Regions from separate parts of the Homo sapiens genome. Here region 2 is linked to region 1. Evidence: fine-mapped expression QTL. A gene starts in region 1. The other region holds a variant in brackets. All regions are shown on one strand. Distances are between the middles of the regions.

Region 1 (15,580 bases):
GAGCCAGGAGTTTTTCAGGGGCAGAGCCATGTGCCTTTCTGATCCGACTATATTCTGGGCTTAGGTGAATCTATGTTGACTTTGGAGTGGTCAGAGGGGTTGAAGCAAAACTGGCATGGATATTCTGCTGGTTGTCAAATGTTGGGCAAGTGTCCTGCTCATAATTTTTAAAGGACAAATATTTGAAATGAGCTAGCTATTTTAGATAATTTAAAAATTATTTATGTGCTGGTTTATTGTATAGAAAGGAATATGAAATATTGTACATAACTTAAAAAAAGATTAAAACAAGCCTGGCACAATGGCTGGCACCTGTAGTCCTAGCTACTGAGGAGGCTGAGGTGAGAGAATTGCTTGAGCCCAGGTGTTCGAGACTGCAATGAACTATAATTGCACCACTGCACTCCAGCCAGGGCAACAGAGTGAGACCCTTTCTCTCTCTACATATAAAACAGTAGATCAACATTACAAAATGTTAAAAAGAGAAAAAACACCCATAATACTGCTATTCCATTTTTCCTCTGTGCAAATATATTTGAACATGGTTATATTCATAATGCACATATATCATCTGTATTCTGCTTTTCAATTTAATATCATCCTCTATTTTCTGTATATTGTGACAGTCTTCATAATTTATTTTTAATGATAATATAGTATTTCATTAGAAACATGTACTATAGCTAACATTTTTCTGATTATTGGGCATTTAGGTTGATTCATATTTTGTAGTGAACATCTTTTCTTTTGGATCATTTCTTAGGATCAGTTTCCAGCAATAAGATTACTGTGTCAAAGGAAGTAGACATTTTTATGACTGATACATGCTTTGCAAAAGGTTTGGCCTTTTTCTTTGCACAACTTTAAAGGTGAATCATCAGCCATGAGCCAGTGCTTACATTTTTGGACAGTTAATTATTATTCCCATATTAGGCAGAGAGAGAAAAGCTCTGTGCACATCTGATTTTCTTCTTATTGCTTTCATTATATAGAGCTGACGTGTTGAGAAAAATGTCCTGGCTGTGAGACATTCCAGACAACAGAGCCATCACTTTGGAAAAGTTTGGACCAATCCCAATTTTGCAATCAGCTCCCAGAGTTTTTCATATTTCTTTTGGCAAAGATATCTGTCGCTGTGGTCAAATGCAGCTGAATGGTTAAAGTCACAGCGTGAGCTGATCAAGGTGCCTATTTTAGTATTAGGTTGGCAGTCTGTGGCCAGGTGTCTGGGTATTTTGAGAGAAGTAATTTTGTAAAGTAATTTGCAATTCTTAACTGTGAACAGTGCCAGAAGAGTTATATGCAGGTTTTCTGTGGAGATTCTCTCTCTCTTCCAGACCAATTGGAGGATAATCATTGGTTTCCGAAGAAAACACACTGGGCCGGGTGCAGTGGCTCATGCCTGTAATCCCAGCACTTTTGGGAGGCTGAGGCAGGCGGATCACCTGAGGTCGGGAGTTCAAGACCAGCCTGGGTAACATGGTGAAACCCTGTCTCTACTAAAATTACAAAAATTAGCCAGGTGTTGTGGCATCCACCTGTAATCCCAGCCACTCAGGAGGCTAAGGCAGGAGAATCGCTTGAACCCAGGAGGCGGAGCTTGCAGTGAGCTGAGACATGCCATTGCACTCCAGCCTGGGTGACAGAGCAAGACTCCATCTCAAAAAAAAAAAAAAAAAAAAAAAAAAAAAAAAAAAAAAAAAAAGAAAACACTGATTGCAGGGAAATTAGGACACCTTGGTCCTTGCTGAATGTGTCACAGTGTCTGTGCTTTGCAGCAAATTGCTTGACTTGAGTTTTTTCCTTCTAAGAAGCAAAGATATTGGAAACAGGAGTGCCAAAATCCCTAAAATTTTTTAGGTTCTTTGTCCGTTGGATGATTCTAATTGCATGCCCATTTTTGTAGCCAAGGATGTAATTTCCCTATTCATTGGGGCTTCTGTCAGGCAACAATGGAAAAGAATAGGATGTGAAGCACAAACCTATCTTTATAGTTTGTCATTTCTACCAGAAGATATCATGGCATATATAATTAAAACCAATGGCAAAAAATTATTTTGACTACCTGTGGCTTGAATGTACTTACTCTATCCCTGCTCCTCATGAATATGTTAAACATAGAAAAAAAAATAGCATTCACTCTTGCCCAGCAGGTTAAAAGGAAGTCAATCTATTCTGTGGAACTGGTCTTGAATTTACCGACCATTACTTTATTTGCTGACTGTAAAAATTCTAGCTTAAAAAATAGCACTCTCAGCAACATCATTTTCAAACATGAAGGCCAACAGTATTTTATTTAGCATAGCATTTTGAAAATCTAATGGCAATTTGGTAAGAAAAACTTAGGCCAGTTAGGGGAGGAGTAAAAATGAAAGTGGAAATAACATTCATTTTCTTTTTGTATTTTGTATTTTTATTTTTTTGAGGCAGTCTCATTCTGTTGCCCAAGCTGGAGTGCAGTGGCGCGATCTTGGCTCATGCAACCTCTGACTCCTGGGTTCAAATGATTCTCCTGCCTCAGCCTCCTGAGTAGCTGGGATTACAGGCGTATGCCACCATGCCCAGCTAAATTTTGTGTTTTTAGTAGAGATGGGGTTTCACCATATTGGCCAGGCTGGACTCAAACTCCTGACCTGAAGTGATCCACCTGCCTCAGCTTCCCAAAGTGCTGGGATTACCGGCTTGAGGCACTGCACCTGGCCATTTTCTATAAACTCTCTGAAATTAATTTTCATTTAGTCTGTTATAAAAGTAGTTATTCTCATTTTTCCCTATGAAGGCATAGAATCAGTAAAGAGATTTATAATGAAGCTATGTGGTCACTTCAATGCATATCTTTGTAGCTGCCTGTAGAAGAGTTTTCTATTGACTGTGGAAACCCCTTCATAAGAAACAGGGTGAGGGTCACTCTAGCTGAGCTTGAGTAGTTTACTTAACCTGTCTGTTTCCAAACTGGTAAAATGGATTGTGGTGAAGATTAGAGCTGATACAGTTTAAGCACCCAGCTGCCCTCTTGCAAGTGAGGATACTATACTTAGAGAGGAACCCAGTCCCAACCTCTCCCCAGGGAATAGCAGCAGGAGAGTGCTGGGTTGTAGACCAGTGTTGAGACTTGTAAATAGTCTTTGGCACCATAGGGCCATGTGTATTCACTCATCAAATTCAGCCGTGTGTGTGTGTGTGTGTGTGTGTGTGTGTGTGTGTGTGTGCGTGTTTGTGACCCTACTCTGAGCCAGGTACTGTTTCAGGTATTAGGGATACTGCTGTGAATAAAACAGAGATGCTGCCCCTGCTGATGGAGACAAGTAATAAGTAAAGAAACATAGATGGAGATCTGTGCTATAAAGAAAGAGCAGAGAGCAGGCATGTTGGCTCATGCCTATAATCCTAGCACTTTGGGAGCCCAAAGTGAGAGGATCACTTGAGCCTAGGAGTTCAAGACCAGCCTGGGCAACATGGTGAGACTACTTCTCTACTTAAAAACAACAACAACAAACAGAGTATGGAGATAGAGAGTGATCAAGTGGGAGGGAATTGTTTTGGATAGGACTTTCAGATCAAGTAAGGTCAGATCAGCCTCTCATCAGAAGACACTTGTAGCAGAGTGCTTACTAAGGAAGTGAAGGAGCTCTGAGTTTGTCATATGAATATTGGGAAAAAGAATGTTCCAGGCAGTGAAAACAGCATGAGCAAAGGCCCTGAGGCAATAGCATACTTGATGTGTTCCACTAAGGAGGGCAATGTTGTGCCTGGAGTGGAGTCAACAAGGAAGAGATTAAGCTAGAGGCTGAGGTCAGAGAGATGGGTGAGGTGGCCAGATCATATGAGGCCTTGTAAATCAAGATAAGGACTTTCTTTGGCTTTTGAGTAAAATGGGAAACTATAGAGATTTTTAAGCAGAGGAGTGACATCATCTGACTTCAAAGGAGTTTTTATAGTGTGTTGTGGGCTTTTATAGGCTCAGGCAAGAGGTGGATAGGGTGGATGGGGAATAGATCTTGTAGAGCTGAGTGTTCCAATATGGTGGCCTCTGGCCACAAGTGGCTACTTAAATGTAAATTAATTAAAATTTTAAAAATTAAAAATTCATTTTATCAATTGCACTAGCCACATTTCAAATGCACAGTAGCCACATGTAGCTAGTGGCTACTGTATTGGACAGTGAGATGTAGATCATTTCCATTGCCACAGAAAGTTCTACTGGACAGTGCTGGTAGGGTATTAAAGGTCTTTGTAGGGACTTCAGCTTTTACTCTGAGTAAATAGAAAGCCATTGGAGGGTTTTAAGCAGAGGAGGAACATGCTCTGACTTATGATTTCGAAAGATCACTGTTGAGAATAGACTGTAAGGGGGCAATGGTGAAAGTTGATAGACCATTAATAGTCTAGATGAGAGATGACCATGTCTTCGATGAGGGGGTAGGAGTGATGATGATGATAAATTATTGGATTTTGGATATATTTTGAAGGCAGAACCAATAGGCTTTTCTGATGAAAATGATGTGATATGAGAAAAAAATGACAAAAAGGTTGTGGGTGATGATGAGAGAAGAGAATACAAGGCCAAAGAGAAGGGATTTCCCTTGTTGTGGAGGAGTCTCACTCACCTTGAAGCAGGAGGGAAAGCAGGGATCTGGGTGGAAAAAGATCTAGAGAATCCTCATCTAAGCAGAAGATGAAGGAGTAAAGAGAGAAAGATGGGTGTATTGGAAGCTTGCGGGTGATGGAGAAAGTTTCAAATAATTCTTGGAAAATAAGTTGAAAAAAGAAACGTAACACAGTTGTTAGAGCAGGGCATGATTGCTTGTGCCTATAGTCCCAGCTACTTGGGATCCTGAGGCAGGAGGATCTCTTGAGCCCAGGAGATGGAGGCTGCGTTGAGCTGTGTTTATGCCACTGCACTCCAGCCTAAGCGACAGAGCAAGACTCCATTTCTTAAAAATAAAACAAAAATGTAGTTGTTAGTATTGAGGGCCCATAAGAAGTTGGTGATGATGAACCTATCTACGCTTTTGATCACCTCCAGCAGAGTTTGACTGTTGCGTGCAAGCAAAGAGAAAGGAGATGGCGGGGTTCAATGAGGGCTGTCGTTTTCCTAGATAGGTTTGTAGAAAAAACAGAGAGGAAGGGAGTTTAAGGGATTGGCAAAAAGGATATAGTAATAACAGACCATGGAATAAAAATTGAGTAAGAAGGAAAGTGAAAACAGCTGAAGGCTAATGAATTGGGAGAAAGCAGATGGATCAATAGACTGGAGGCCCCAATATTTCTAAGAGCAGTTGGAGTTGTTGTCATGCAAGTTGGAAGGAAAGATGCTTATCCAAAAGCTGAATGCCTGAATCAGTAATCTTGCGGCAGAGCTATTGTAGGTGATGACAAGGTCAGTCCTTTGAAGTCTATGCATATATATCTTCATTATAGGCTGACTTGCCAAGTCTTAGAATTTTTACAATATAACCTCACTGTGGATCTCATCTAAGCAGGTTTGGTAACCAAAAGCTCAAGAGCGTGAGATTGAGACCCCAGAGAGCTCATAGCCTGTCACAAACCAGCTGTGTAACCACGGACCTTGAGGAAATGAACCTTATGGTCCCTTCCGTCTCTAATCTGTGACTCCATAGCCCCATTATAATATAGCCTTTTCCCAAACACTGACCTTCAACATAGACCCTGGGGGATTTTTCTATTAAAAATTTGCAACTCTGCACATTTTTATCTGCTGATGCCTCTTGGAATATTAAATGCTTAGAAAGCTGTCGTCGGGATCACATTCTGGAATCTTGACCATGTAGTCATCTGAGTGGGTGTGACAGGAAGTATACACCAGCAGCATTTGTGTCTGAGTGTCCTTCAGACACTGGGATGGCTGCACCTTTACCCGTCCTCTCCAACTCTCTCCACCTAGAAAGTATTCTTTTCTCTTAATTTTGTTAGAGTTATATAGGAATGCTCCTTCAGCAGAAATGACAGAGGCTGTTGCTCTCAGAATCAAATGCAATAATGTGACCTGTAAATTCCTGTGAATATTTGGATATTTTAGCGATATTTGTTTATTCAGAAGAGATTCTGGATGCAGAACTCTCCTCCTCTCTGTTCTCTAACCCTGCTTTCCACCATCATTCTTCTCTCTCTAGGGCACAGAGAGAATTAAGAACAACCTAAGGTAAATTTTTAACAAGATGGTCTAGCTTGAGCTCTGTAGGCTTGACTGATGAAATAAGTAGTAGTTTTTTGCTAAAATAACCACATTGTTTGCAAAAGTTTTCTCCTTTGAGTTTTCTAGGGTCATTACAATGATCTAACTGCCTTACCTGCTTTTGAACTGGTTGAGCCTCTTGTGGGACCGAAAACAAAAGAAGGGTGTTGAAATGCAAATAGATAACTCTGGGTCCCAGTCCCTGACTGCAAAAGGAAGCCAAAACTGACAACAACGTCTCCTTCTCTACGGAGGTTTGTAGAAAGGCTGTACAAAAATCTCACAAGATGTATTTCTTCTCGTGGACTGGAGTCCCAAGGTAGGTAAGAAAAACAAAAACAAGATAAAAACAAACAAAGGATTCCGTACTTGGAATTTGCTCAGTACCAGTTGAATAGCTAATTGTTTCTTGTGTTCTTCCCCTCCCCCCTTTTTTTCTGCCTGAATAGATAATCCTTACAAAACATCTATTCATTCTACAAGTGAAAATTTCAAGAATATTCTATACTGACCTTGGCAAGAGTAATGGACCGAGATTGAGTGATGAATTTGTGTGTGTTGTGGCTGATGTGCATTTTGGTGCTTTGTATGCAAGTTTAAGAATATCTTAGCAATAGGAAAGGAAGATTTATGGCAGTTTAATTAATGAATATAATGAAGGCTAAAACTTGTAGATAAATTTATAAGGTACACAATTATTTTTATAGCTTATTTTTAGCACAAAGGTGATTGTATTTTGTTGCTTTAAGAAAGGACCTCTTGATAATACTGGCGTGTTTTATATTTCAATGTGACCAGTTTAACTGATATGCAAACAATTATTTTTTAAGGGAAATAAAATGAGGCAGTAGTACAACTTAGCGAAGAGGACACTGTGGCAGATTCTAACGACTAGATTAAATTTGAGCTCTTATTTGGCTTTTACTACCAACTGACTGCATAACTTTGGGTCAGTTATTTGGCTCTTTTTTTTTTTTAATTTACAAAATTAGAATGAGAACTACAGATAGTGAAAATATTTGGAAAAGCTTTTTGAAGTCCCACGTGAAAGGCATCAGAAAAAAGAGTTGGGTGATTTTTTTTAATGGGAAATAATCTGATATTGTCAGTAAACCTAAATTTTTTGTATATTAATTTATTTTTTAAGCTGTTATTTAATTTCAGGTGCTTAAGAGCTCTTCAATTTGTTAATGGAAAGAAACACCATTTACACCGGATGGCTACAAAGCAACCTTATTCTGGTAAAATAATCTCTTAAATCCTTATATACACAGTCACTAACTGTTGGCTTTATAAGGTCAGTAGTAGCAAAACAGCCCTGTGGCAGTTAGAAGCTCAGCATGTCCAAGATAGCACTAACGGGGAACAAACACAAAAAACAGCAAACAGTTTAAACAGTACCATTTGATTTGAATTTAACCCAATCTTAAACAGAGGACTCTAAAAAAACAATTACCAGCAAAGTTACATTAATTAGGGAGATCATTAGGTTGTATCAATGCAGTTTAGCTATGCCTTTTAAAAAGTGAAGATGGACTAGAAGCGGTGGCTCATACCTGTAATTTCAGCACTTTGGGAGGCCAAGGTGGGAGGATCCCTTGAACTCAGGACTTTGAGACCAACTTGGGCAACAAAGTGAGACCATCATGTCTACAAAATTTTAAAAATTAGCTGGGTGTGGTGGGGTATGCCTGTGGTCCCAACTATTTGGAAGGCTGAAGCAGGAGGATCGCTTGAGCCCAGGAGGTCAAGGCTGCAGTAAGCCATGATTGTGCTACTGCACTCCAACCTGGGCAACTGAGTGAGACCCTGTCTCAAAAAAAAGAAAAAGATTGAACTTGCAGGCCAACATTTATTTCTGACTATTGACTACTTTTGAAAGAGAAAGCTTTGGACACTAACATTCTAGTCTCAGAGGCCTCAAAGAAGCACAGCCCTGTAAAGAAGAAAATTCTGCTGGGATTAGCAAGAGCCTCAAGGTTTTGGGAACTTGGAATGCCAGGCTCAGTGTTCCGAGTTCCAATGTTGACTCTGCCTGTGAGTCACCCTGAACTAGTCACTCAGTCTCTTGTGTTTCCCCCTTTAGAGAAGAGCTAAGACTATTGACTTTTCAGGAGTTGCAAAACATGTTACAAAAGGATAGGAAAGTACTATGCAAACATGTAAATATCATGAAATATTGGGGGGGTACATTTTAATAAAGATAAGCTGCATTCTTCTGATAATTGGAAGTTGATAATCTTTATGTAAAGACAGGGAGATTGATTTCAAAATAGAGGTTAATGCTTGAAATTTTAATTCGAACAGTGTAAATTTGGATCATTGTTTGCTCTGTTAGTCGATGTTGCTTACTGAAAGGAAACTCTTAACAAGTTGTCTTACTAGAATGGCTTATTTTCAGAGTCAGACCCCCAGGCTTTCTAGAAATGTGTATTAAAATTTAGTAACCTCACTTTCAATTGTTGAGTATAGGACACTGTGGTTGGGTTTCTATATATGTTGTAAACAAGCCAAATACACAAAGTGAACTCTCTATGGACCTTAAAAAAGTCTTAAAAATTTTTTTTTGAGGATATTGAATGAGGCACCTATTTTATTCCTTACTTTTGCAGGATAGCTTGTCAGTGCCAGCTTGGGTTTTTGAATTCTGACTTTTTGCTGGCCATGATTTGGCTGTCTCATTAATAAGACAAACCTTTCTAAAGTGGAGCTCATTGTTTTTTAGTTCTTTTAATGGTGTGGCTAGCCTCTCATTGTTAAAGAAAAGAAAGAATATAATTTTTATTCTTCGTTCTTTCTGGCAACTTTATACCCTCTACTAACCCACCCAGTCCTGAAATCCTGTTAGTTTTTCCATCTGTGACTAGCATCTCTCTTCTGATTCCCAGTAAACGCTACTATATTCCCATCATTCAAAATTAACAACTGTTATTATTTTTGTCATATCTTCTTCAATTTTTTTAAAGAAATAAAACAAAACATTGATGATAAAATCAAGTTGCCTTTGAATATTAATTCCAAGTCCATTTCCTCCTTCTGTCCTCACTTCCCAGAGCCCATGTTCAGTTTGTATACTTTTTAATATTTTATATATATTTGTATGTACCCATAGTTAATATGTAGTATTGTTTTATGGATTTAAATATACATAAATGTTTTCTTTTTTAGAGAGAGAGGATCTCATTCTGTCACCCAGGCTGGAGTGCATGATCATAGCTCACTGCAGCCTCGACCTCCTGGGCTCAAGTGATCCTCCTGCTCCAGCCTCTCAAGTAGCTAGGACTACAGGTTTGTGCCACTATGCTTGGCTAATTTTTTTTTTTTTTTTGTAGAGATGGGATCTTACAATGTTGCCTGGTCTCAAACTCCTGGCCTCAAGAGATCCTCCCGCCTCTGCTTCCCAAAATGCTAGGATTACAAGTATGAACCACCATGCCCAGCCAACTGTTATATGATTTGTTTACTTTCTCTGAGCATTGTTTTTAAGGTCTAGCCATGTTTTTGTACAGACACACACACACGTGCACACACACACACACCCATCTATATATATATATTCATTATTTTTAATTGCTGTCTAGCATTTCTTTTCTTTCTTTTTCTTTTTTTTTTTTTTGAGAAAGACTCTCGCTCTGTCACCCAGACTGGAGTGCAGTGGCACGATCTCAGCTCACTGCAACCTCTGCCTCCCGGGTTCAAGCAATTCTTCTGCCTCAGCCTCCCAAGTAGCTGGGACTACAGGCGCCTGCCACCAAGCCCGGCTAATTTTTGTATTTTTAGTAGAGACGGGGTTTCAACATATTGGCCAGTCTGGTCTCAAACTCCCGACCTCAGGTGATCTGCCCGCCTTGGCCTCCCAAAGTGCTGGGATTATAGGCATGAGCCACCACACCCGGCTATTTGCTGTCTAGCATTTCATGGCATAAATAATACCACATTTTATCAGTCCATTTATTAGTGAATATATGATTGTTTATATTTTTTTCACTAATATATAGGCAATAGTTTCTTAGTCTTGATTCCTAGATGCAGGATTGCTACATTTTGAATATGCACAATTTAACTTTTAAGAGATATTACCAAATTGATTTTCAACTGTTGGAAAACTGTTTCCCCAGATACTTTCCAACACTTGTCAGACTTCTTAATCTTTGCCAATTTTAGGGGTAACAAATGGTTTTCCCTGGGCTTTCTAGCTTTATTTCAGTTCATCCTATTCATAGTTGCTGGCCTAATCCTTTCTAAGGACAGCACTGCTCAGGGCCTTGCCTGGTCAAACACTCTCAGAAGCTCTGCACTATCTACTCAGTCCAAACTGCCCCAAGTCCTCTGCAAGCAACCTGTCCCACCTCATCTATCCATGCCCAGCTGGACCAGAACGTGCAACTTACCACTTTCTCAAACTCAGCTTTTACTTTTCTGCCTCTGCAACTTGATCATGCTCTTCTGCATTCCTGTATTGATTCAACAAATATTTATTGAGCTCTTTACTTCCTGCCAGGTGCTGGGAATATAAGGGTGAAAAAGAAAGACCATATCTAGGCATTTATGGGACTTAACAATTTTTAGCAGAGGATGGGGATGGGCAGAAAATAATCCAGTAAAAAAATTGAGCACGATAATTTTCCATAGTACTTTATAAGTACTATAAAGAAAGTAAAATAGAATGTTAATGAGTTTGTGTGGAGGAGTGACGGGGGTGGATGTGGGGCATGTCCAGGTGGGAACTTTAGAGGGGCAGGTGCTCAGCGAAGGCTTTACAGAGAAGGTTATATTCCCCTTGAGACCAGCAGTGTGAAGCTCATTCACAGACCAGAAGTATTTCTGATCCTGAGCAAGTGCAGATCCCTGCATGTAGGGGTGGCCTCAGAGGATCCTGAGAGGAGCAGAGCTGCCCTTGTGGCTGGCAGTTGGGGCTAGGAGAGTGGTGGATGCTGTAGGAGACAAAGGCAGGCAAAGCCATGCCTCTCAGGGCCTTGTGGATGCTCTCTACCAAAGCCACTGCAGGAAACCGTAGTTTGCCCTTTAAAGCCCTGTAAAGCCGTGATCAAATCCTCTCTTCATAATCATTCCTGATCCAGCTGGCTGGGCGCGCTCTTTCTGGACCACCATTGCACAGTAGTGGTGCCTCTTAAGGCATTTAACATAGCACTTTGGGATCATGATGTCTGTCCTTCCCATGAGCTATTAGAATTTGTTTTCATGTTGCTGTTTTGTTTCTACCTCACAAGGGACAATACTTTATTGTCTGGAAAGAGGAAAGTAGAGGAGGAAAAGGTAGAACACAGAAGAAGCCTGTCATTTTTTATTGAGTCTGGAATGAACTGAGTTTCAGTGAAATAAGCTTTCCTGTTGTATATTTGAGCTGATTTTCACAATGGCAAATATGACAAATTTAATTTTCCTTAAAAATTGATAAGACCAGTTGGAGTTCTAAAAGTGATTTTTTCTACCCCTTGAAGATCTTTTCTCAGAATAGCAGTCTGTAGGCTGTCACCTAAAGTGTCCTGTTTTCAGTGCTGCACCTGCTCTGAGCTTCATCTTTTTACGAAGACGTCATGGTGTGCTATCTGTACTGGGAAACTTTCCCCAGCATCAGCCATCTCCTGAAGATAACATTGTCTGCTAGAGATTGTCATGTATGTGGATTGAATCTCTTTATCTTCATGGTAAGTTTGGAGTTGTGTATTAGACCTACCTTACTGGTGAAAAGAATGAAGGTTCGTAGAGGTCATTACTTGTCTGTCCGCAGGTTACGAAATTAGAGAATAGCGAAGCTGACACTTGAATCTGGGGCTACTGACCAATTCTCTATGAAGCTTCCACACTTTAAGTAGTAACATAGCAAAGACCAAGCACTTAAAATTATTTCTAGATGAAGCCTTTGTGCTCTGAACCACTGTGATCACTGTTGATCGCATTTTCCTTCTTGAACTCATTTTCTATTAATAGGAGCATTTATCACAGACAGTGAGAGGCAGTTTGTGCAGCGGGGAAGAGCACGGGCTGTCTGAAGCTAGACTGTCTGAGTCAGGGTCTTCTGTGCCAGCTTGCTAGCTGTGTGGGGGAAGTTACTTAACATTTCTGTGGTTAAGTTTCCTTATTTTTAGTATGAGGATAATAACAGCACCTACCTCATTGGGTTGTTGTAAGGATTAAATAGGATAATGTACTTAAAAGGCTTAGAACAGAGCCTTGTACTTAATAAGTCCTCAGTTAATGCTCTCCTAGTCTCAGGTCTCAGCTCAAATGTCCTCTCCTAGGGAGGCCTTACCTGGCCCCTGTAGCTAGCCTGGGCCTCCCCCAGGCATTCAACATCTTCACCCTCTGCCTGCACCCTGCCTACTTCCCTCATGGTGTTTTCCCTCTTTTGGGGTACCAGGTTTATTACAGGGTTGTCTCCTCTGTGACAATGTGAGCTTTCCATGGGTTGGCTTGTATGTTCCAGTTTCCAGCTCCAGGACAGTGCCTGGCATGTAGTTTGCTCTCAATGTACATTTGTTTAACGGCTCTCTGTTTCTGAAAATCCTGAATCAGAGCTTTCATTTTGAACAAAATCGTTGCTACTCTGGTTTCTTCTCAATATGCCATATGTATTAGTGTTCCCTGAAACTTCATTCCCACAGCTTCAGACATGATCCCAAATGGCTCAAGAATTTGTACTTCTAGCCCTGACTCCTCTTTCTTTACTTTTTTTTTTGAGACAGAGTCTCACTCTGTCGCCTGGGCTGGAGTACAGTGGCGCGATCTTGGCTCACTGCAACCTCTGCCTCCCAGGTTCAGGCAATTCTCCTGCCGCAGCCTCCCAAGTAGCTGGGATTACAGGCGCCCGCCACTATGCCCAGCTAATTTTTTGTATTTTTAGTAGTGATGGGGTTTCACCATGTTGGCCAGGCTGGTCTTGAACTCCTGACCTCATGATTCGACCACCTCGGCCTCCCAAAGTTCTGGGATTACAGGTGTGAGCCACCAAGCCCGGCCCTGACTCCTCTTTCAATCTGTATTTCCAACTAACTGTTCATAAAACAAATTCTGGTAGGTGTCCTTAGCACAACATGTTCAAAACCAAATGCACTACTTTTTTTTTTTTTTTTCTAAACCAGGTCCTCTTTCTGTGCCCCCAGCCCGGTTGACAATGTGTGCCTTCACTCACCCAATTAGAAACCTTGGAGGTATCCTGTACTCTTCTGTCACTTACCCTCAGCCTAAAGCCAATCAGTCACCAAAGTATTGTCTGTCATTATCATCATCATCATCATCATCACTGTCACCACTGATGGAGTGAGAACCTTGTGCAGTTGAGCATGAACCCCAATTTCATTTGCAAAATGACCCAGACAGCAGATTTCATCTCATATGAAATAAGCAAGGTGAGGTTTTGATGACGTTACAGACATGGCTAAGAAGAGGTTGAGAACCAGCATTCAGCCCACCTGACTCCAAAGCTCATGCCCCGAACCTCAGAAACTTCTCCAGTGAGTTCCTTTTTTTTAATGGCAGGATCACACCATTAGTTTGGACTGGATCCAACCTGGATTGTTGCAACAGCCTTTGATCTGATCTGTCAAGCCCTGTGCCTTCTGTGCAACCCATTCTCTACCCTGGCACGAGCATTACTAAAATACCAATCTGGTCCTATGACTCCTCTGCATAAAAACCACGGCTGGGGCTGGTCAAGTGCAACAGTGTTTACAACTAATTGATCACAACCAGTTACAGATATCTTTGTTCCTTCTTTAGCCAAAAACAAACAGAAAAACAAACAAAACCCAAATAACAAAAACAAACACAAAAAACCCCCCATTGTTTGTTCCCTTTTGCATCTTTTGAATTCTAAACTCCTCACATAGCATAAAATCCCCTTCTGGGTCTTTTCCCAGCCTACAACCCACTTCCCCACCTGCCCCATTCCCCCTGTTGCTCCTACCTCTGGCCTTACTTCAGCCCCAGGGTCCCCTGCTGGACATGGCAGGCCCAGCACATGCTGCCCTGGGCCCTTTCACTTTGCTTTGTGACATATTTTTCATCCTTCAACCTTCAGCTCATAAGCCATATTCTCTGTGAAGGCATCCAGAGGGCCCGAGACAGCCCCTCCCACCTGTGTTCCTCAGAGCATTCTGTGCCCATAATTAGGGTGAACACATTTCTGAATCAGCAGTGGAAATGTTTCAGTTCAGACAGTTACGCATGTGCCCCTGAAGGCAATGGGACAGTTAATAGAGCAAAGTCCAGAAGAAACTCTTGGAGATGATTCCTCTTTATCTGTCTGCTACCCTGTAGAGGGGTGGGGAAGGTACTTCCAGGGTAGAGAGCTGTGGGTGGCCCTTGTATCTCTTGGAGATGATTCCTCTTTGTCTGTCTGCTACCCTGTAGAGGGGTGGGGAAGGTACTTCCAGGGTAGAGAGCTGTGGGTGGTCCTTGTATTTGCCCACACCTGACACGATGCCTAACTGTTGTTTGCTGAATGTATGAAGACTATGCCAGGCCTGAGATTCTTTTGAACATAACCAAATGTCATGTGTAAATTTCTCCAAATAACCAACCAACAAACCCAGCTCTTTATAACAATGGACAATCCAGCATGAGTATTAGGACTCTGTTTAAGTCTCAGGTTTATCACTAGAACAATTCTCATAGACACACTTCTTCATCTGTAAAATGGGGATAATAGTAGCTACTTACGGGAGTTGCAGTGAAGACTCTGTGAATGAATTGAAGGAAATTAGCAGGCACAGAGTCTGGCAAAGAAGTCTTTGTTTCAGGCACAAAGATATGTGTAGCTCATCACTATAAACAGGAACTAGAAGGCAAGGTCATGTTCTAGAATAACTTTTAAAAGTTAGGATATTGTTGGGAATTTTAAAAGGTAAGACAATTAAAAATATGACTAATATTTGTCAGCTTTTTTTTTTTTTTTTTTTGATACAGAGTCTTGCTCTTTTACCCAGGCTGGAGTGAAGTGGCGCCATCTCAGCTCATTACAGCCTCTGCCTCCCGGGTTTAAGCGATTCTCCCTCCTCAGCCTTCTTGAGTAGCTGGGATTACAGGCACCCGCCATCATGCCCGGCTAATTTTTGTATTTTTAGTAGAGACTGGGGTTCACCGTGTTGTTCAGGCTGGTCTTGAACTCCTGACCTCAAGTGATCCACCCACCTCGACCTCCCAAAGTGCTGGGATTACAGGCTTGAGCCACTGCGCCTGGCCTCATTTGTTAGCTTTAACATATGAAGAGACATCCTCCTAAATGTTAAAGTACTCTTTGACATTTTACCTATGCATTTTACAGTTGGGCTGGGAGAGATGTGACTCCCGGTTTGTTTTGCCTCACCTTTGCATTTCATCAGCTGTGTCTGATCCCAGCCTAGCCTGTGTGTCGGAATCACT
Region 2 (15,580 bases), 36 kb before region 1:
GGCATGGTGGTGGGCGCCTGTAGTCCCAGCTACTCGGGAGGCTGAGTCAGGAGAATGGCATGAACCCAGGAGGCGGAGCTTGCAGTGAGCCAAGATCACACCACTGCACTCCAGCCTGGGCGGCAGAGCAAGACTGCGTCTCAAAAAAAAAAAAGAGTTATGAAGGTGTCTATTTAAGACAATGTGTGTGAAAGAGCATTTATTAGGAGTCAAACAGTAATCCTTGGCTCTGCCAACTTGTCAGCATTGTGGCACTTTGAGCAAGCCTCAAAATCCCCATATATAAGAATAAAGCTAATAATACTCACACTGCCTCCTTTGCAATGTTGTAGTGAAGAACAAATGGGTTTATGTAAATGAAAGTGCTTGAGAGAGCTATCCAGATATTAGCACTGTTAATACTATTCTTATTCCTGAGGAGGCAATGTGCTATGTATGGGGCACCTGTCCTGTTCTTTCTGTTGCCAAGAAAGAAAATATTACCACTTAAAAAAGATTGATTCTGTAACAATCATGAAGTGTACTGTAAAAGTACAGATCAATATAACAACAGACTTGATGTCAACCACTGAATCTATTTGCAGATAATGCTCAAGACTTCTAGAACAGTGTAAATATTTACAAAGTCGCCTCAGTTTTCAATGTTTCATAGATAAATGAGAATGAAATCATCAAGAATGTTTTTTTCTCTTTCCCTTAGTTTCTATTTTTAACTTCTGTACAGTATCAGATGTAATATCCTGGTGTTCTTTCCCAACTCCTGGCCCCTGCCCATAAAGTACACGCATGCTACAGGAATCCAGCTACACTTTGGATGCTTCCTGCCCAATTAATGTTATTTTTACTGTGACTAAAGCATTGAGAAATAGGTACCTCTATAGAAAATACTTCATATATTAATACATTACAGATGAACTGTTCTATAAATGGAATAGTAGAAACCACCTAACAGACATGAGAGATCATTCAATTCAGAAATGTGACATACTTTCAGTATTGACTCTTTAGTAGGACAGAATGTTGCTATAAGGAGTTCCAGAAATCACAGTGCCAGTTGAAGTTTGGCAGTTGGTTCCTTCCAGCTGTTTTTAAAGGTATCCTCTCTGCAGGAATTTAAAAGTGGCTCATAGTATGGCTTAAGATGTTTATGTTTAGCTGTTTCTGTTGTGATTCTTCCCTTTGAGAAAATAGGATGTTTTTCTAGTAGTAAAGGGTTTATGAAGTTCTGTGGCATTAGATCTAAATGATCATGACTGTGAATACCTGGTAAAATTAATGGAGAAAAAAGACATCATGTGTGGGGCATACAATTATGGGGCATAAAATTAGTTACAAAAAAACTAATTTTTATTGTTAATGTTATACGTTTCAACTGGTTGTGGCAGCATCAGATAGACACCCCAAGTGAAAGAGAAGCAGAGAGTCCTTGGCATGATTTCAGGTTTCAGACTCCCTCATGGTCTTTAGAAACATCCTTCTGGGGCTTCCTTACCATGCTGTTAGGTGTACATCTGTTGAGGACAGGCAAAAAGAGAAAAAAGCTTTTGAGATGGAAGCTGCCTGTATCTAAAATCCTTTTAAATTCTAAATCCTATTTTCAAAAGGAATATTTTTGTTGTGATCATTTTACATTTAAGGTTAAATGTATTAAAATTAAAAATGTATAATAAGTAACGTGGTAGTGTAGTAAATAAAAATATGAAGCATACTCTACTTTCTCAGTTTACCAAAACGTGGGGAAAAAATAAAACTTACAAGACAGATAAATTACAAGGGTGATTATACCATTATTAAAGTGCTCTTTGATTTTCTTTTTATTTATTTATTTTTTAGAGATAGGATCTCACTCTGTTGCCAGGATGGACTGGAGAGCAGTGGTGCGATCATAGCTCACTGCAGCCTCCAACTTCTGGGCTCAAGTGATCCTCTCACCTCCTGAGTAGCTGAGACTACAAGCATGCAGCACCACGCCCGGCTAACTTTTAAATTTTTGGTAGAGACAGGGTCTTGCTATGTTGCCAAGGCTTGTCTCAAACTCCCAGCCTCAAGCAGTCCTCCTGCCTCAGCCTCCCAAAGAGTTGGGATTACAGGTGTGAACAACTGCACCTGGTTAGCTCTTTGATTTTCAAAGCATCATATAGATTTCACATAAACAGCTGGGTTTCTTATACGGAAATAATAATGCATGTTGTTCAATGTTCAGGAAATTTTATTTGTTCAGGAAATTTTATTTGTTCAGGAACTCATCTATTGTACAAAGCAAAATATTCCTATCTCATAAATAGAATTAAAATTTGAATGACTTACTCTTAAATTTTTATTTATGCAGCAAAATAAGGAATAAAAAATTAACAATTATTGAGGGAAGAGGGACTCTTAATTATCTTAGAGTTTTTACATAAATCAGAAAAAAGATTTTTTTTTCTTAACTATTTAGAATTATCCAGAATTGGAGCAAACAAGTAGCCTATAAAATGAGTACTAAACTCAAGTACTGAGTGGCTTGAATTTAGTCTGCACTAAATGGATCTTGACCAAGGCTACTGGAAGGAGGAAAGTGAGTGTTGGTATTGAACTTTGGGACATCGTGTATACACAGTAAAAAAAAGTGTAGCTATAGTTGAATTTTTAAAAGTTTATTATCAAAATGGAAATTGTTTATTGTTCATAACTCTTCATTAATCATTCTTATTAAAACAAATGTATGTATTGCAACAGTTTTAGTTTCAGAAATTATAAAGGTAGTAGTATTGAATTAGATTTGTTATAATGAATATACCATACTAATGTAAAATGTTAAAAATAGAGGAAACTGGGGATGTATCGGATATATGCAAACTGTTAGTACTATCTTTCTTTGTTGTTTTTTTTTTGAGACGGAGTTTCACTCTTGTGGCCCAGACTGGTATGCGGTGGTGCAATCTCTGCTCACTGCAACCTCCGCCTCCCGGGTTCAAGTGATTCTCCTGCCTCAGCCTTCCTAGTAGCTGGGATTACAGGCATGTGCTACCACGCCCGGCAAATTTTTTATTTTTAGTAACGACGAGGTTTCACCATGTTGGCCAGGCTGGTCTTGAACTCCTGACCTCAGGTGATCTGCCCGCCTCGGCCTCCAAAAGTGCTGGGAATACTGGCAAGAGCCACCGTGCCCAGCCTGAGTACTATCTTATCAATTTTTCTGTAAAACTAAAATTGCTGTAAAAAACAAAGTCTATTTAAAAAGAAACTAAATAAAAACAAGAATCACTAGTTTTATACAATCTCTTTGTTCTGGGATTGTTTCCATTATCTGTAAAATCTAAGCATTCAGAGATAAACAAATATTAAAATATTCCTTTAATATTTTACTTTTGAAAGAATCATATTACTTAACTATTTGAACCATTTCTAGATTTAGTACAGACTCCTATTTAATATTTGGCTTGTTAGTACCTAACAAGAATACTACAATGTAGATTTTTATTTCCTCACTGAAGTGAAAATTTTTTGCTGTCTGTTTTCTCTAAGTTTAAAGCATATAGTTTTATTTTCTTTTAAAAGTTAAGATTTTAGAGTTAAAAGTGAATTTATATTTTCTAATTAATTAAGCATTTTCTAAAGCTAAAGACTAATCAACATCTTTGGAATATTTGTTACATATATAGATTACAATAAAAATGTATGCAGTTCACAACAGATGGTAATGTGAAATTTTATCTCGAGCTGGTATTTCAAGTATTATTTCAAAACCTATTCATACTTATTACCTTAAGTTTATTCTTTTAGCTGCTTTATAATTTTTTTTTTTTAATTTTAACCCTGTTGAAGATTGTAACAAATATATTCTAGTTGCTACAGTCTAAAACAGTGCTTGGAAATACTGATGCTTAGTGTTATTTCTATGATTACTTTAATAACATTTCCTGAGTTTAATTTTTTCATTACCCAGCTATCTTTCAGAACTGGTATATTGATTTTTCTAATTAATATTCTTTGTACTTGGGATGGTATTTTTATTTTGTACTTCTAAAGAATTGAATAGCACAACCATTATAAGTGATGTGCTTGCTATGTTATCATATAAATGCTCAAGGTACACCTTCTAATGTTGAAAAATAGGAAAATAAATTGACCTTGATGAAGTGTGTCTTCTTTTGTCTGTTCCCAGGAAAGTTTATTTCAGGTATTTCTACTGCTGAAATGATTAGCGTTAACAGCTTTTCCCCTCCATTTTATTTTACAGGGTCTCTTCATCTTCCTGATATATGGGGTGTACAACACAGAGGTAAGTCTGCTTGGAGTATCTCAAGGCTGACAGAGTGAATGAGAGAAATGACAGGTTTCTTATCTTGATAACTGAGGAACAAAGTTGGCTTTTCATATGAGTGTCCTACTGCCCTTCATGCTTGGACTAGCTTATATGCATCCCAGCTTACCATTAAACACTGACACCCTGAATAAAGGGACAGCCTCATTTCTCACAGGCGTTGACTAATATTTTACGACTGCCTTAAGTTTTTGAACTTTCAGTCTTTAACACTTAGCTATTGTAGAAAAAAACAAAAACAAAAACAAAAAAACAACTCAGCCTCTCCTATACTCTCACTCAACAATCAACACAGAAGATTTCTGCGACCAAATGTGTAGGGGTTTCTCCCCACACACCGAGCAAGCAATCAATTCTGCAGCAGACACCACTGGGGTGTCCTCCAATTCAATTCTGACACTACCTACCTGGAGACAGCATCAGATCCCCCAGATTAAGAGCCCAGGCCTACAAGACTGGCCGGCCGCATTTCAGATGCCAATCACAAGCCCCAGGTAGTTTTACCTGTGCTTCTGACTGACCAGCTGTAAATCGGGGTTCCCATGACCCCTTCCTTGGGCTTGATTAATTTGCTAGAGCAGCTCATAGAACCCAGGCAAACACTTACGTTTTCCGGTTTACTATTAAGGACATTACAAAGGCTATCGATGAACACCAGATGAAGAGATGGATGGGGGAAAGTCTGTGGGAAGGGGCGCGGAGCTTCCACGCCCTTTCCGGGTGCGCCATCCTCCTGGAACCTTCACGGGTTCGCTTACAGGAAGCTCTCCAAACCCCGTCCTTTTTTAGGTTTTTATGAAGGCTTCATTACACAGGCATGATTGATTAAATCATTGGCCATTGAAGATCAACTTAACCTTCAATCCCTCTCTCCTCCCCGGAGGTCGGGGGGTGGGACTGAAAGTCCCAAACTCTAATCCTGCCTTGGTCTTTCCGGTGACCAGCCCCCATCCTGAAGCTACCTAGGGGTTGCCAGCCATCATCAGTCGCTTCATTAGCATACAAAAAGACATTTATTACTTTGCAGATTCCAAGGATTTTTAGCAGTTGTATGCCACAAAACGGTTCAAAGTCCAAATATATATTTCACAATATCACAACTATACTTGACAGTATTAAAGTGTCAGTTTAAGTGGTGGAATACTTACATGTTGTTTCATGGGATTAGAAAAAAAGCAATTTCTTCTTATCTCAAAATTCTCATTAAATATTGTCTGTAAAATTTTTAGGGCAGGCTGAGAGAGGTCCATAAGTATTAGTAAATAATCCCTATGGTTTCGATTGTGAAATTTCCCAGAGAATTTATTATTTAATTATGAGAAGTTATTTAGCTAGAAACATTGTGATGTACATGTAACTTCATTAAGAAAACATACTATGTAAATAAGCTGTTGTCATAGTTCTAGTTCTTTTATTTAAAATTTCTCATTTATAAATATCCTTTGCTAGGAAAGTGTCTGGTTTAGATTTCTGCATGCTTAACATGAAATCGAGTGCCTTGTGTACATTAGACACTGAATAAATATTTGTTGTTTGATTTTGTTGATATAACTTTGATTTTAAGATTTTACTTCATAATTTTCCCTTACAAGAAAAATTTCTAAATTTGCAATGAGTTTCTCGGTATTCTGTACTGGCGAGGAAAGAGTTGATCCTAGCAGAGCTCTTAGAATGGCCTGGTGGTTAATTTTTCATAAACAATATAAAGGGCCAGGCATTCATAACGTGGCAAACAGACTGATTAGCCAGGCTAAGGTACGGGGGCATTTAAATAAGATGTAATGATAATGAAGTATGTGTGTGGGCGTGTTTTACAGGACTGCTGCACCTGGATTACGCTCGGTTTCCTCTTCCAGTAGCCTTCAGGAAGGTTGGCAGTAAGACAAGTTTTTTTCTTTTTCTTTTTTTTTTTTTTGTTGCAACGGTACCACTAATTGCGGTTTCAAAGCAGGCTCCTCCCATAAATGCAAAGGATATGCGCCCATTATTAGTGCTTCCAAATTCAAAGGGATAACATAAGCACCTGTTTTAATAAATGTTGAGCATTTGGAGTTGAATGCTTCTTGATAGAATCAAAAGTGCCCTCAATGATCCACTTCTAGGTTTGAATTTTATTTCAAGACCTGGATTGCAAAACCTAGAGTGAAGAAAGCCCTAACATTGAATCCTCAGTTTCCCTCACCTTCTCTTCCAGCCCCTTTCTCTGCATCTCCCACGCCACGCTGTAGTACAGTCCCCCGTAACTTCCCGCCCCTTGGGTTCCACCTCCTGAGCGTCTTTCCCCCAGAAACCCTCAACCACTTTCATCTCCTTCAGTGCAGCCCACCAATCACGCCTGTTCGCCTCGAAAGCCCCTTTTTAGCAGGGCTCCAAATCCCCGCCTCCCCTGCCCTTGCTCCCCCGCCTCCGCCCAACGGCCCCAGTGATTGACAGGCAGGCCGGGCGGAAGCTGCGGCGCAGGCGCCCTGGCTCCTTAGCCCTCCCCTCTGGCCGGGTCGAGGAGTTCCCAGCAGACACTGCGCCGCGGCTGCGCAGTACACGGGAGGCTTTTAATTCCATTGTGGAGAGGACGGCGTTATTTTTATTAACTGGAGGCGACGGCGGCTGCGGCGGCGGCGGGACCCGTAAGTATTGCCGGTGGGTCCAGGAGGGAGAGGGCGAGGCCTGGGGAAGAGTCGCAGGACCATGCGTGCCGGTGCCGGAGGCGACTGGGCTGGGAATTAGTGCTGGGCGCGTTGCGGTCTGGGCGGCGGCGCGGCGGGGTCCTTAGCGCTGCGGTGGTCCCGGCCCGGGGCCCGGTTCCACCTCCTTTCCTCCCTCTTCCCTCTTCCTCC[T/G]CCTTTCTTCAGCCAGGCCTCCTCCGGGGTATGAAAATCGGCAGTGGGTTCCTGAGTGGCGGCGGAGGTACCGGCAGTAGCGGTGGTAGCGGCTCCGGCGGCGGTGGTAGTGGCGGCGGCGGCGGCGGCGGCAGCAGCGGCAGGAGGGCAGAGATGGAACCCACCTTTCCCCAGGGTATGGTTATGTTCAACCACCGTCTTCCCCCGGTCACCAGCTTCACCCGGCCGGCGGGGTCGGCCGCCCCTCCCCCGCAATGCGTGTTATCCTCCTCTACCTCCGCAGCCCCGGCCGCTGAGCCCCCCCCTCCGCCAGCCCCGGACATGACTTTCAAGAAGGAGCCGGCGGCGTCAGCCGCGGCCTTCCCCTCGCAGAGGACCTCCTGGGGGTTCTTGCAGTCTTTGGTTAGCATCAAACAGGAGAAACCCGCGGATCCTGAGGAGCAGCAGTCCCACCACCACCATCACCACCACCACTATGGGGGGCTGTTCGCTGGAGCTGAAGAGAGGTCTCCAGGCCTAGGAGGCGGTGAAGGGGGGAGTCACGGCGTCATCCAGGACCTCAGTATTCTCCACCAGCATGTCCAGCAGCAACCAGCCCAGCACCACCGTGACGTATTACTCAGCAGCAGTAGCAGGACTGATGACCACCATGGCACTGAGGAGCCAAAGCAGGACACTAATGTCAAAAAGGCAAAAAGGCCAAAGCCAGAATCTCAGGGAATCAAAGCCAAGAGGAAGCCAAGTGCATCTTCCAAACCTTCTTTGGTTGGAGATGGAGAAGGTGCCATCCTCTCCCCAAGTCAGAAACCTCATATCTGTGATCACTGTAGTGCTGCTTTCCGAAGCTCCTATCACCTGCGGAGACATGTCCTCATTCATACAGGAGAAAGACCTTTCCAGTGCAGCCAGTGTAGTATGGGTTTCATTCAGAAATACCTACTACAGAGACATGAGAAAATTCATAGTAGAGAGAAGCCATTTGGATGTGATCAGTGCAGCATGAAGTTTATTCAGAAGTACCATATGGAGAGACACAAGAGGACACATAGTGGAGAAAAGCCATATAAGTGTGACACTTGCCAACAGTATTTTTCAAGGACTGATAGATTGTTGAAGCACAGGCGCACATGTGGTGAAGTCATAGTTAAAGGAGCCACTAGTGCAGAACCTGGGTCATCAAACCATACCAATATGGGTAATCTGGCTGTGTTGTCTCAGGGAAATACAAGTTCTTCAAGGAGAAAAACAAAGTCAAAAAGCATAGCTATTGAAAATAAGGAACAGAAGACCGGTAAAACAAATGAATCGCAAATTTCAAATAATATAAACATGCAGAGTTACTCAGTAGAAATGCCTACCGTGTCTTCCAGTGGAGGCATAATTGGCACTGGAATAGATGAACTGCAGAAGAGGGTGCCAAAATTGATCTTTAAGAAAGGAAGCAGAAAGAATACAGATAAAAACTACCTTAACTTTGTGTCACCATTACCAGACATAGTAGGACAGAAATCCTTGTCTGGAAAACCAAGTGGCTCACTTGGCATAGTATCAAATAATAGTGTGGAGACCATTGGTCTTCTCCAAAGTACAAGTGGCAAACAAGGTCAGATAAGTAGTAATTATGATGATGCCATGCAGTTTTCAAAGAAAAGAAGATATTTACCAACTGCCAGCAGCAACAGTGCCTTTTCTATAAACGTAGGACACATGGTCTCCCAACAGTCTGTCATTCAGTCTGCAGGTGTCAGTGTTTTGGACAATGAGGCACCATTGTCACTTATTGACTCCTCAGCTCTAAATGCTGAAATTAAATCTTGTCATGACAAGTCTGGAATTCCTGATGAGGTTTTACAAAGTATTTTGGATCAATACTCCAACAAATCAGAAAGCCAGAAAGAGGATCCTTTCAATATTGCAGAACCACGAGTGGATTTACACACCTCAGGAGAACACTCAGAATTGGTTCAAGAAGAAAATTTGAGCCCAGGCACCCAAACACCTTCAAATGATAAAGCAAGTATGTTGCAAGAATACTCCAAATACCTCCAACAGGCTTTTGAAAAATCCACTAATGCAAGTTTTACTCTTGGACACGGTTTCCAATTTGTCAGTTTGTCTTCACCTCTCCACAACCACACTTTGTTTCCAGAAAAACAAATATACACTACGTCTCCTTTGGAGTGTGGTTTCGGCCAATCTGTTACCTCAGTGTTGCCATCTTCATTGCCAAAGCCTCCTTTTGGGATGTTGTTTGGATCTCAGCCAGGTCTTTATTTGTCTGCTTTGGATGCTACACATCAGCAGTTGACACCTTCCCAGGAGCTGGATGATCTGATAGATTCTCAGAAGAACTTAGAGACTTCATCAGCCTTCCAGTCCTCATCTCAGAAATTGACTAGCCAGAAGGAACAGAAAAACTTAGAGTCTTCAACAGGCTTTCAGATTCCATCTCAGGAGTTAGCTAGCCAGATAGATCCTCAGAAAGACATAGAGCCTAGAACAACGTATCAGATTGAGAACTTTGCACAAGCGTTTGGTTCTCAGTTTAAGTCGGGCAGCAGGGTGCCAATGACCTTTATCACTAACTCTAATGGAGAAGTGGACCATAGAGTAAGGACTTCAGTGTCAGATTTCTCAGGGTATACAAATATGATGTCTGATGTAAGTGAGCCATGTAGTACAAGAGTAAAGACACCCACCAGCCAGAGTTACAGGTAAGGTCCCAAAAGTGGCCAGGCTGGAGGTCTTCTAATGTAATTTTGTTTTATTTTGAGAACACTGCCATTGGAATGTTTCTACACGATCCTATTAAGAATAATGTGATGCCCTTTCAATGCAACTTTTCATATTTAGTTTATTTTGTTAGCGTGATTTTAGCTCTGTTTGTATTATGATTTTTAATCAAAATCAATAGATTAAAAATAGTTTGACATTCAAAGTGACAATGTTTAGCAATCAAATTTACATGTATAGATCGTCAGGGAATAGCCCAAATGTTTTAAACGCAAAAAAAAAGACAAAAAAAAACCAAAAAAAAAAAACCTACAAAAAAAACTTTGTTGCTAGGATTAAGGTTATTCTAATTGCTTTACTCTCAGGAAAGTGTAATAACGCATGGGAATTCTGTACGTTATCACTGTAATGGAATATCCAATTTACAGATAGTATGATATACATTTCATCATTTAAGTAAGGGATCGAAAACATTTCAAATTGCTCTATCTGGGCTGATAGACATTTCGTCATTTAAGTAAGGGATCGAAGACATTTCAAATTGCTATCTCCATCTGGGCTGATCCAAAATTCTGAGATTGTTGGCTACCTATATTTTGTTGCAGCTTTTAAATGTACTCTGAACTTCCAAACCACATTCATTCCAGCCTGGTAGAACAAATATTCTTGGATCTTTGATCAAAGCCTGGAATGATAGCTTTAATAAAAGAAGGAAAAAAAAAAAGCACCCTCTCTTGATCTCAACTGTAACAAGGCTGTAATTCCATCAAGCGATTCTACTGACATCTAGTACAGTGTTGAAGCCCAAGTGGTTGGCTGGTTCCAGTATTAGAACTCAAGTTGAAATTATATGATTAACTGAAATTTGGGGCATGCATTATTTATTATACATGGCCTACAACGGTTCTGTCTGCGCTGTTACGTATTACCTACACTTCTGGGTTTTTTTGTTCTTGTTCTCAGCCTCTCTTTAAGAGTTCTTGGGCCTTCCTTTTCCCTCTTTCTATTTTAACAGTTTTAATTTTAGAACCATTTACATTCCAGTAGGTAATTCACTATGCGCTTTATATGCCTTAGGGCATCCAAATAAAAAACAATAGGGTAAACATCCCCAAAACCCACCTTTAAAAAAAAAAAAACCCATACAGATTTCCATATGTAATAAAACCCCGTGTTCTTGGATAGATATTAATAAGGTTGTAATTCCAACTGGTGACATAACTCCTGTGAGGGATAAGAATGTGTCTGCTTATAGTAATAACATCAGAACCTCTTTGTGAAATTGCGGCCTTTAATGTACATTTTAATGAAAGGGTGCATTAGTATTGTACAGGGGTCTTGTAAAGTCATCAAAACTTGCTATGAACTCTAATTGCCATTTGAAGCTACTGATTGGCAGTGGCTCTACTCTAAAACTGCTTTTTAGCAATTGTATTTTTTTCCTGATTATATTTTTTAATGTACTTTGATGTTTATGCTGATGAGTTTTTTATGTACTTTTGGTGATGTTTCAGTCTTATGTACTCTTCTGACGTCAGAAAAGTACCACTGGTTGTTTGCAGTCTTATTGTGTAATCAGCCTACCGCAGGCTTCCATGTATAATAAAGTAATTAATATTGTGCAAGTGTAAAACACTTCTGTTATAAAAGCAGTGTTTGGAAAATAAGAAATATTAAAAATGGTTACAAAGTATTAGTTAATTTCCTTTTCCCACTTTCCTCCCTTTAGCTTTAGCAGCTAAAGGGTCACCAACTTGTCATTGCAAGATTCTTAGAAAATGTACTTAATCTTAAATACGCTGAGTACTAAAAAGTGTTTATTTCTTATTTCAGTAAGTGCGGTAAGTTCTATTGAGTACAGAGTACAAGCTGTAATCAAAGGATGGAGAGGACCTTTACCACTGTATCTCTTAAGCTGTATGATTTTTCTCCAGTTTGTTTTATACAGGTTTTGAATTTCTTTAACTTTTATTGTGTGTACTGAATACTGCATATGTATTATTCTGATTGTTTGCTCTAGTTTACTACCAATAAAAGTCCTGTTAATCACAAGATTGAAGAAAGGAGATATTACTTAATATCCAGTAACGTTTTTCAGAATTTTCTATTAACATTTTCTAAAATATTCACATCCGTGGTATAACCTGCAGTTTAGAGGCTTGTATTTTAATTGTATTTTTTTAACTTAGGTATTTTGTGTTTCTAGGTTTATTTTAGTTGAAAATGGACTCAAGGCCGGGAGTGGTGGCTCACGCCTGTAATCCTAGCACTTCGGGAGGCCAAGGCGGGTGGATTGCCTGAGCTCAGGAGCTCGAGACCAGTCTGGGTAACACAGTGAAACCCCGTCTCTACTAAAATACAAAAAATCAGCTGGGTGGGGCGGCGTGTGCCTGTAGTCCCAGCTACTCAGGAGGCTGAGGCAGGATAATTGCTTGAACCCAGAAGGTGGGGAGGTTGCAGTGAGCCAAGATTGTGCCACTGCACTCCAGCCTGGGCGACAGAGCAAGACTCCGTTTCAAAAAAAAAAAAAAGGATTCAAATTTATATAATACTAAATTTTTGTTCTTCCATATTGCTATGCACCTAAAACATATTCAATGTTCATAAAATATTCAGTTTTATGACATTATGAAAACATTCAACATTTTATGAACATTGAATACTTTATGAACGTTGAATATGTTTTAGGTGCATAATATGGAAGAATAGAAATTTAATATTATATAAATCAATGTTTTCTTGAAATTGGGTTAGCCATCCTAATATTACTCCAGAGAAATTATTTATTGAGGCTTTATTTTAAATCAGATTCCAATATCTTCTGGTTTTAGGTGCATCCTTTTTTGCCTCAAAAATGTTGTAATATCCTGTGGCACCAGTTTTGGGAAAAAAAACTTTTTACTTAAAAAGTTGTAATAAAGTGACAGTATGATTTAGATTACAACAGTCTTGAGCATTTTAGTTAGGATGAAGGTATTATTAAATCAGCAATGTTTTAAAATGTTGAGAGTATAAGTATTAGAAGGAAAGAGCTAAACCTATAAATAATGGAGATGCAGAAACTGAAAATTAGTAAATATGTAATATATTAGTAAACTTATAAGTATGAAGGGAAAAAGTAGATCATAAGACATTTGTGTTTTGAAATTTAGTGGCTACAGTGTTGAGGAATTGGGAATAAATATATTAAAGGGTAGAATAGGTCTTTGAGGCTTTGTTTTCTTTTTAGTATATGATAGTATTACAGGAAATCATAAAGATATTAAGTATAAGCATGGATTTCTCTGTAGAGATTATCTGTACTGGCGAGTCTGTGATTAGGAAATGTCAGTTTTTGTTTGTTTTGCCCAAGTGTATTTCCTAGATTTGGTCTTTTTCTTGAACAAGAGTGCTAAGCAGAATCTCTGATTCTATATTGAAATCCAATTTTTGATTTCTTTGCACAGGTGACTTATTCTCTATTCTAGATTAGCCCTAACAGATTGATTTTTTTTTTTAACCCATCCACCTGCCTTTATTTCTTCTGTGGAATGTCTGTCTCTGAATATGATCATTTTAAAATTAAGGTTTTTTTTTACTTTTAAGAAGTTAAGGTATGAAGTAGGAAACAATGCTTTTGGATTTCTGTTGTGCTACTGGAAATTCAGAATAAGGACTACCATAATTTAGCAATTGCTGGTCAGTATTTTTGAGGTAATTTAAAAATGGGAACAGTGGAAAAACATCTATAATTTTTAGCATGTTTTTAAAAAGTTGCAAACTGATACAAATATTTCTACTTTAGTTTTCCGTATTATGCTCATCAGATGAGAGAGGCAAAAGTTTGTATTCATTCCTGTCATCTGGCATTTTGTAATTACTTGCCATTAGTAGCATTTAAGCCTGAACTGGGTGACAGTTTGAGCAATATGGCTTCATGAGGTCACATGGAATTTTTACCTTCCAAATTCATAGGCTCTTGTTAAGCAGAAGAACTTCCCTCACCAAAAATAGTTTCTGAACTTCTACTTTTAGGGTAAAACATACCTGAAGACTATCATTTTCTGAGTTTTATGGTCTTTGTGTTTTCTATGATACATACTGATAGGATTTCATTTTTAAAATGTGATGCAAGACTCCTTTGTTAGTGCTATGATAGGATCCATGCATCATGTTGCGTGAGGTTATGATGGTAATGTTCCATGAATATTTTGTTATGGGATCCCTCCTGGTATTTAAGAAGAGGGATCTGTGGTGGTTTACCAATCTGCTTGTACCCTCCATGAAATGATAAACAGTTACTGATAGTGAGGGAAAATATTGTATTCTCGTTATTTTTTTATATCCTTGGTAACATTTAAAATGAACATTAGGATGAACACAGCATCTTAGAATTCTGTTATCTTATGCTTGACTGTATTTGAGTGTGACTAATTTAAATAGACTATATTTAAATTCTTTATGAATCTTTGGCTTACTTATACAAGTCCAGCGTAACATTTTTTTTGGGTCACAGACTCTGGGCACCCGATATAAATTGATGGCCCCCCGCCCCCTGTACGTTAGCAGAGATATATCAACAAATGAAAATGTGCAAGCCAGTCTACATGCTCACAAGACCTCCTCCAACTTTCAAATAAATTCTTAGTTATGGACCCTAGGTTAAGAATTTAGAAGACATCCTAAATATTGAAATTTTATTGTATAGATAAGTAGGAAGTTAAAACCTAAGAAAATCATCAAATATTAGGGGTGCTTCTGAATTGATTTATCTGCAGTTTAACTACTTAGCATTTATGGAAGGCAGTTTACAAAAAGCCATAGAGGTTTATGATAAGCTGGTCAAGTAATTAGTTGAATAGATTTTATAATTCTTTGCACTTCTCATCTGATAATAACTACCGTATAGGTAGTAGACTTGACAGTAGTTCAGTATTTTCTGTTAACAGAGTTGTGTTTATAACAATTACAGTCAACTACTGTGGTTCTTCAGTTGCACAGAGTAGCTTTTGGCAAAAGTGAAAAAACCTACAACCAACCTACATCTTTTTACCTAGGAGGAATAATATTGAGTTCTTAATAACAGACTATACTTCATTATAGCCTGTGTGTGTGACTAGCTAGGTTGAAATGTACTGTGCATGATAAGCCTTGTAAAGCAAGTTATATGTTGAAATTAGTATCTTTGGAAGTGTAGATAGATAGCTGGAGAAAAATGTAATGATTTGGAGCTTGTACTCCAGAGGGGAAAATGTATTTCCCGTGTTTATAGAGAATAGAAGAATAATGGGCAGGGGTTGAATGTAAAGGGAATTAAGGGATATCTTAGAATGGAGAAGAAAAGGAATAGATTTTGAAGGAAAATAGCATACACATTCCGTACTCAGTCACATTTGGAAAATAGGGAATATAAAATTTACTCCAATATTAACTGTTAAAAGGGTAAAGAGGATCTTTAGTTGGAAAACTGTTCTGATTTTGTTGTTCTTTCAGTTCAGACTTATTTCAGTACTTTGGTTTGTTATGAACTTTAGAACTATTGTGGAGCAATTAATAAATAACTCTTAACAGACAACTGTGGTGAATTTCTGTTTACATGTCCAGTCTAGGAAAAAGATGGCTAATCTTTGTGTTTATGTATTAAATCTTTTCTTTGGTAACTCATAAAATCACACAGTTTCCATCGGTTGTTAAGAATTTTAAATAACTTTTTTCTTACTAAAACAAT

The links. PIP is the estimated chance that this variant, and not a neighbour inherited with it, causes the effect.
Region 2: its variant is fine-mapped to the expression of LINC00862 in whole blood (TOPMed, PIP above 0.99).

What each region holds. Positions count from the first base shown.
Region 1 is chr1:200,364,950-200,380,529 of GRCh38, reverse strand. It overlaps LINC00862 (long intergenic non-protein coding RNA 862), which reads left to right and starts at 6,738. Exons shown (of 5, transcript NR_040064.1): 1 at 6,738-6,883; 2 at 7,361-7,437; 3 at 9,365-9,484; 4 at 11,659-11,865. RefSeq lists enhancers at 5,258-6,457, 7,854-8,384.
Region 2 is chr1:200,401,296-200,416,875 of GRCh38, reverse strand. ZNF281 (zinc finger protein 281) reads left to right here and starts at 6,840. Exons shown (of 2, transcript NM_001281293.2): 1 at 6,840-6,930; 2 at 7,153-11,925. The coding sequence starts at 7,171. The coding sequence ends at 9,858. RefSeq lists enhancers at 4,980-5,586, 6,262-6,311, 5,858-6,435, 6,436-7,013, 7,014-7,591 and 1 more and a silencer at 6,652-6,831. The variant T/G (reference allele first, on the strand shown) is at 7,141.